Linked DNA regions of Homo sapiens. The protein of the gene in region 1 purifies or fractionates together with the protein of each later gene. This does not show direct contact. Each region holds a gene or a part of one and is shown in the gene's direction. Other genes may lie near its edges.

Evidence for each region. The genes of interacting proteins can lie anywhere in the genome.
Region 2: the proteins of RBMS1 (region 1) and SARNP fractionate together in Homo sapiens (co-fractionation; one large-scale study listed by BioGRID). This does not show direct contact.

What each region holds. Positions count from the first base shown.
Region 1 is NC_000002.12:160,368,296-160,371,817, reverse strand, and holds part of RBMS1 (RNA-binding motif, single-stranded-interacting protein 1), read left to right. Parts: intron 1-3,522.
Region 2 is NC_000012.12:55,800,709-55,804,230, reverse strand, and holds part of SARNP (SAP domain-containing ribonucleoprotein), read left to right. Parts: intron 1-502; coding exon 503-602; intron 603-3,330; coding exon 3,331-3,377; intron 3,378-3,522. UniProt on the Homo sapiens protein: Binds both single-stranded and double-stranded DNA with higher affinity for the single-stranded form. Specifically binds to scaffold/matrix attachment region DNA. Also binds single-stranded RNA. Enhances RNA unwinding activity of DDX39A.

The sequences.
Region 1 (3,522 bases):
TTGTCCATGCAGGAAGTGCTCCCTGATTGCTATCCATAGAGGAAGTCCTCCCTGAATGCTGCCCACACAGGACGTGCTCTCTGAGTGCTGTCCATACGGGAAGTTCTCTCTGAGTGCTGATGAACGCTCTTCCTGATGGTGCCAAACCACTCGTGCAGGAAAGGCTGAGGGTCTAATACAACCACCCCTTTATTCACGAGTGACTTTGTTTTCTATCCATTTTGGCATGCAAATTAAGCCCATATAAATATTATCAAGAAAATTGAATTAGCTTGTTTTCTTTGCCCTTGGAGATAGAAGAATGTAGTTTGTTTGCCTGACCTGATAACAGGAAAAATTAGGCTAGAGAAGGCTGAGAGACTACTAGGCTCTTTTGGGATGAGTGGGCACTTAGCATGCTTATCCAGCCACCAGGTCCCCTAATTAGATTGAATGTGTGTAAATAGTTGCAAGCTTCATCCATAGAGGGTCTTTTCACGTTCCAAGGCAGCTTCCGGGTTTTGAGAGGCAAAATGTAGAAGGACTACCAGTGATGAAAATGGAACTGGCTAAAATATTGTCCCTTTTTGTCCCTTTGTAAGCTTTTTAAAAATTTGTTTATCATTTGTGCTGCCAAGACACCTAATCTAACGCAAAGTGTAATTGCTGTAAATTTATCAGAGTTCTGAAGCTGTAATTAAAGGCTTGTCAGTATTTGCATTTTAATCTATGAATGAGGGTTTAATTTTTCACTGTTTTAAGTCACGTCATCCTAAAATGTTGACTCTAATGTTTAGCAGTAATATGCTGAAGCTTTCAGAAGTTGTTTGTAGAATTTATTCTTTAATGAAAAGATTTTTATAAAGTAGAATTTTTAAAACTGATTTTTTTAAGAGCTAATCTTTGTTTTTTTAATACTTAACAGACTGTGTGTTAATTAAGTCAACTTAAAGGCACCTTTTACTTTCTTAAAAAACATTAAAGGCACCTTTTACTTTCTTAAAAAACATATCTGCCAATGGTATTAAGTATCAAATTTCAGAGAAGCTGGAATTTGGTAATTAGTCAGCAAAAATGATGGGCACAGAAAATGAAAGAATACAAATAGAGCATTCAGGACATAGAAAGTGTTTTGGGGTCCCACGTAGAGTACTGTTTGAAGGCTCTGCTCTGGCTTTGTTTTCTAGCAGACCTGCGTTCAAATTCTAGCCCTGCCACCTTCTAAATGTGTGGCCCTGGCACATGGCCTAACCTTTTTTGAGACTCGGTTTCCTAATCTGCACAATGGGAGAACAATAACCTACCTGCCTGTCTGATTGAATTAAGTATGGTAATGTATGTAAAGTACTCAGCAGAGTCTGTATCTTTAGTAGAGACGGGGTTTCACCATGGTGGCCAGGCTGGTCTCGAACTCCTGACTCCGTGATCCACCCACCTCGGCCTCCCAAAGTGCTGGGATTACAGGCGTGAGCCACTGCGCCCGGCCCAGTTTCAGTGACTTCTAAAAACGTAATCTTGGGTTTAAAAATTTCTGCACCAGAAAATTAAAAATTGACAACCTAGAATAATTCAACGCTTCTCTCTTTCAGTTTTCTTTCTCTGTCTTCAGTTAGCCCCAAGAAAGAATTGATTTGGAAATAAAATTTGAATTTGAACTTTGTTCTGTATAGGATTCACCAGAGGCTAGTAGTCCTCATTGGGTACATTTAGGAACCCTCTTCTGCCTGGGATCAGATGCTGGGAGATTTCATTCCCTCACAGGGGAAACTTAACAGGGGAAGCAGGGAAGCACAGGCTGTACCTGCTTCCCACATTGGGAAAATACTGCAGTAAATATGGATGGCCATCAAATTTATATTAAACTGGCTCTGTAAATTCAGATATGTAAATCATAGCTGTATTTTGGCCAGAAATGAATACATAAATAAAAAAACCTACTACTTTCATGTCTAAATAATCTCCAACTAAGTCATACATCCAAATGTTTCTTTAATTATACAAGTGCATGCCCGCCACTCCCTTTCCACTCCTGGCAAAATCAAAGGTTCAAGTGAATGCAGTCTTGGAATGCAGTCTTTAAAATGCCTGATGGTTCATTTACTTCGTGTTGATGTAATCCCACTAAGAGGTAGGGGCGGGCCTGATCCACAGCTTCTTACTGACTTCTCCAAGTCTCATCCCAGATGACCACATTTCATCGCCCAACAGCTACGCTAAACATACTGGGTCCTACTGTGAAAACAGTGTGGCTTGTGTCAGGGATGGTTTCTGAGACACTAATCAAAGGAGGTTTAAGAGAAAATTCAGTCCTGTCTAGTTCTAATAGCTACAAGTTCTCTGCGTCAATCAAAGGCTTGGGACAGGAGGCAGGTGTGTGGGCTACTTTCCAGCACCTCTGTTCTCACTGATGTGAAAAATAGAGTAGGGCTGGATGGCAGGTAGCAACTCAGTGGCTTCAGAGAAGGAGCACAGGCTTTGTGGGGCATGGCCAGTGCTCTGAGGTGCCACCTGTGGCAGAGCAAGTGTCAGAATTTGGTCTTAGTTTTATATCTAGTAAGTAGTTAGCCCCTAGAGAAAAACTAGTGGTTTGGAGAAAGGATATGAGTTCAGCTGCTCATTAAGGGCATGAATCAAATAGATTTGGTAGGATATGATCTCAGGCTGCTTTTATTTTGGGATTAAGCAATACCGATGTTCCCAGTTCAAGTTCAGCCTTCAGTGAATAGCATTTCTGCATTGACTATTATTGACCCTTTGCTGCTCTCCTTCTAAAAGAGAATCTCTTTAAATAAAGTGGTGTTTGGACTCAGATGATATCTCAGCAAGGAACCTGGGCAGTGGAAGGAAGAATCTGAAGGATATAGGACCAGAAAAAATGGTAACATATCTAAATTAATGGGGCCAGGCACGATGGCTCATGCCTGTAATCCCAGCACTTTGGGAAACCGAGTTGAGCGGATCACCTGAGGTCTGGAGTTCAAGACCAGCCAGGTCAACATGGTGAAACCCTGTCTCTACTAAAAATACAAAAATTAGCCAGGCATGGTGTTGTGCGTCTGTAATCCCAGCTCCTCAGGAGGCTGAGGCAAGAGAATCACTGGAAACCGGGAGGTGGAGGGTTCCGGTGAGCCGAGATTGCACCACTGCACTCCAGCCTGGGTGACAGAGCGAGACTCCATCTCAAATAATAAAAAATAAAAATAAATTAATGAGATCCCCATATGTTGAGATATTATGGAATTAGGATGACCATGGCAGAAGCTGGGTACAAAACTAGGAATCTATAGTGGGCAACGGAGGTTGGTGACAAGGTAAATGAGGATATGCTTATTGTAAGGGGTCTGCTTCTCCAACTTTCCACTGTGGGATTTGATTTGTCTCCTATAGACATGCCTGACTTTCTTGTTTGTGCTGGTAAAAACCAAGCCATGAGATTTGAACCTTTTGACTGTCTAGTGACTATTTAATTTTGGATGTTCAAACTGTTCATGAGTGATGTCCTTGAGTTAGTACAGTATATTTATGATTTAGAAAATGTGAGGT
Region 2 (3,522 bases), on another chromosome or scaffold:
TTGTTCACATTAGCTAATGCATCTACCTAATTCTATGGTGGTTAGACCTGTATGCATGTATATGGTAGATTGTAATAACGGATCTGGGATAATAAGTGGTAAGGAGAATCTGCTTTTAGATCATTGGATTTTCTACTTGAAGGTTCATTCTTCCAATATGCTGGCTGCCACAGTAGTCTTAAGAAAAAAACCTTTTTCCCCCCTCAGAATATTTAGAAATAACTAGAGATTTGTGACAGTTAGTAGGTATACAAATAGATGAGGTTTTTTATTAAAGTGTGATGTTTATTCTTCAGCATCTGTTAGGCAGTTCCTCTTGTATATTGAATATCGTTAGAGGAAAATGGATCATCTTTGTGGACCTAGAGCCTTGGTAGAATTAAGGGCAGTAATTTGGGATGGAACTTCATTTTCTTTTTTTCTTTTCCTTGTGGGAACTACCATTTTATTCACTGGTGTTCATCCTGTTAACTAAGGAAAAGTTTTATTTTTTTCCCCTCAGCTTGCCGAACTAAAGCAAGAATGTCTTGCTCGTGGTTTGGAGACCAAGGGAATAAAGCAAGATCTTATCCACAGACTCCAGGCATATCTTGAAGAACATGGTGAGTACTTTGTGGAGGCGGAGTGATGTGAGTGAGGGGATTTTCAGGCTTTGACACTGAAAAGATTTCTTTTTTTTTTTTCAGGTCATTAGCAATGTAAGCTCTTAATTAACGGCATCAAGAAAACTCTCTCTTTTTTTTTTTTGAGATGGAGTCTTGCTCTGTTGCCCAGGCTGGAGTGCAGTGACGCAGTTTCAGCTCATTGCAACCTCTGTCTCCCGGCTTCAACCAATTCTCCTGTCTCAGCCTCCCAAGCAGCTGGGACTACAGGCGAGCACCACCATGCCTGGCTGATTTTTGTATTTTTAGTAGAGACGGGGTTTCACCATATTGGTTGGGCTGGTCTAGAATTCCTGACCTCAGGTGAGCCACCCGCCTCAGCCTCCCAAAGTGCTGGGATTACAGTTGTGAGCCACCGCGCCCAGCCATCTTGTACAACCTACATCTTAGGTTGTACAAGTCCTCTATCTAATTTTTATTTACGTATTCCCTTTTATTTCTATTCCTCATTTCACTTTCTCCCCAACCCATTTAGGCACCCGTTCTAATGTGTTTGAATGTATTTTTTTGGTGTTTTTCCTGGTAAACTATGTAGTGTTGTTTTGTAGAATGTTTTCATTTATATAATTGGTAATTACATAACTGGCCATAGCCTTGCTTTATTTCTCATTTTTTTCACTAAGTATTGTGTTTTTTTTTTTTTAAAGATGCGTCCATGTGGAATGTGACTGTGTAGTTATCTAGTCTGTTGATTCTAATTCCTGCATAGCATTCAATGATGGATAACCACACATTTTACTTAATTCACTCGGTGACAGAAAATTTTATTGCCACCAAGCCTCTGCTACTATAAGTGATACTACTTATAGTATACTATATGTATATAATAGTATATAGTATATATTATACTATGGGTTGAGTGTTATATATTTGAAATGCTTGGGACTAGAAGTGTTTCAGATTTTAGTTTTTTCGGATTTTGGAATATTTGTGTATATATATAATGAGATATCTTGGGGGTGAGATCCAAGCCTAAACACAAAATTTATTTGTTTCTTATCCACATATCTGAAAGTAGTTTTATACAGTATTTAAAATAATTTTGTACATGAAACAAAGTTTTGACTGTGACCCATTGCATGAGGTTAGGTGTGGGGTTTTCCACTTGTATCATATCAGCCTTCAGAAAGTTTTAGATTTAGGAGCATTTTAGGTTTTGAATTTTCAGATTGGTGATGCTTAACCTGTAGGATATAGTATACTATATCCTATATACTAATAGTATATAGTATATTATTATGAACTACTTATTTTATGCTCTTATGTTCCTGTGAAAGTCTTTTTGGGGTATATGCCCAAGAATGGTATTGCTAATTAATATTCATAAATATATACTTAATGTGACTAAGGACTCCCAAATTATTTTCCAGAATTGCTCTGTAGATCTGCAGTCTCATTACTAGTACATAAGGGTTCTTGTATCTTCACAAACCTAAACTTGGCACTGTCCTATCAAGTGGCCTAAGTTTTGCTAATTTGTTGGCTGTTTTATGTTCTCCATGAAAAAAGTTTAAACATTTCACAATTCTTTGGGTTTCTTCTTTGCCCATTTTTCTGTTGAGGTTCCCATAATTTGCCTGTTGGCTTGCAGGCATTTCTTTTATATTCTAATAACTATTGTTTTGTTGATTTTAGGCACAAATATCTTCTTTGGCTGTGCGGGGTGGTTCATGCCTGTAACTCAGCACTTTGGGAGGCTAAGGTGGTATGATCTCTTGAGGCCCGGAGTTTGAGACCAGTCTGGGCAGCATAGTGAGATCCCATCTCTAAGAAAAATAATAAAATTAGCTGGGTGTGGTGATGTGCACCTGTAGTCCTACCTACTTGGGAGGCTAAGGCAGGAGGATCCCTTGAGCCCAGGAGGGGGAGGCTGCAGGGAGCTGTGATTGTGCCATTGCACTTTATCTGGGCGACAGAGTAAGACTCTGTCTCAACAAAAACAAATGTCTTGTCATTTGTCTTTTAAGTTTCTTTGTGCTATCCTTAAGTAGAAGTACTTAGTTTTGAAAAATCTTCAATTTTTCACCTCTTACTTTTGGTTCTGGGTTGTTTTTCTTTTAAACAAATCTTTCCCCACCACTAAATCTCAAAGATACTTTTCCACATACTTTTTTTGTTTGTTATTCAAGACTGGGTCTTGCTCTGTCACCCAGGCTGGAGTGCAGTGACATGATCTCAGCTCACTGCAGCCTCTGCCTTCTGGGTTCAAGTAATGTTCCCACTTCAGCCTCCCCAGTAGCTAAGACTATAGGCGCACACCCCCACACCCAGCTAATTTTTTTATGTTTTTTGTAAAGACGGGGTTTCGCTGTGTTCCCCAAGCTGGTCGCTTGAACTCCTAGGTTCAAACGATCCACCTGCCTCTGCCTCCCAGATTGCTGGGATTACAGAGAGCCACGGTGCCTGGCCCAACATTACTTTTAAAATTAATTCTCTAGTTTGACTTCACATTTAGTTCTTCAGTCCAACTGGAGTTCACATTTGTAATTAATGTTAGGTAGAAATCTGGTTTTATCTTCTCCAGATGTAGCAGATTTTATGTGCATCAGTTTCTGCCTTCACTGTTGGATTTTTTGGGGGAAAGCAAAGTGATTATAATTTTAACCTTGGTAAGTGATCAAGATGGTTTTGTAGCAGGGCTTGACCTGAATATTTTAATATTCTTTAGCTGAAGAGGAGGCAAATGAAGAAGATGTACTGGGAGATGAAACAGAGGTGAGTTGGATAGAGTAAGGTTAGTCTCTGGTAATGTGCCACTGCTTTGGCCACATTGCTTTAACATCAGTCATTGGAGGACTTAGATGTAAATTTATTAGGGGAGCATAAGATGGGTATGAAGGTTCTGAGAGACTGGTTTATT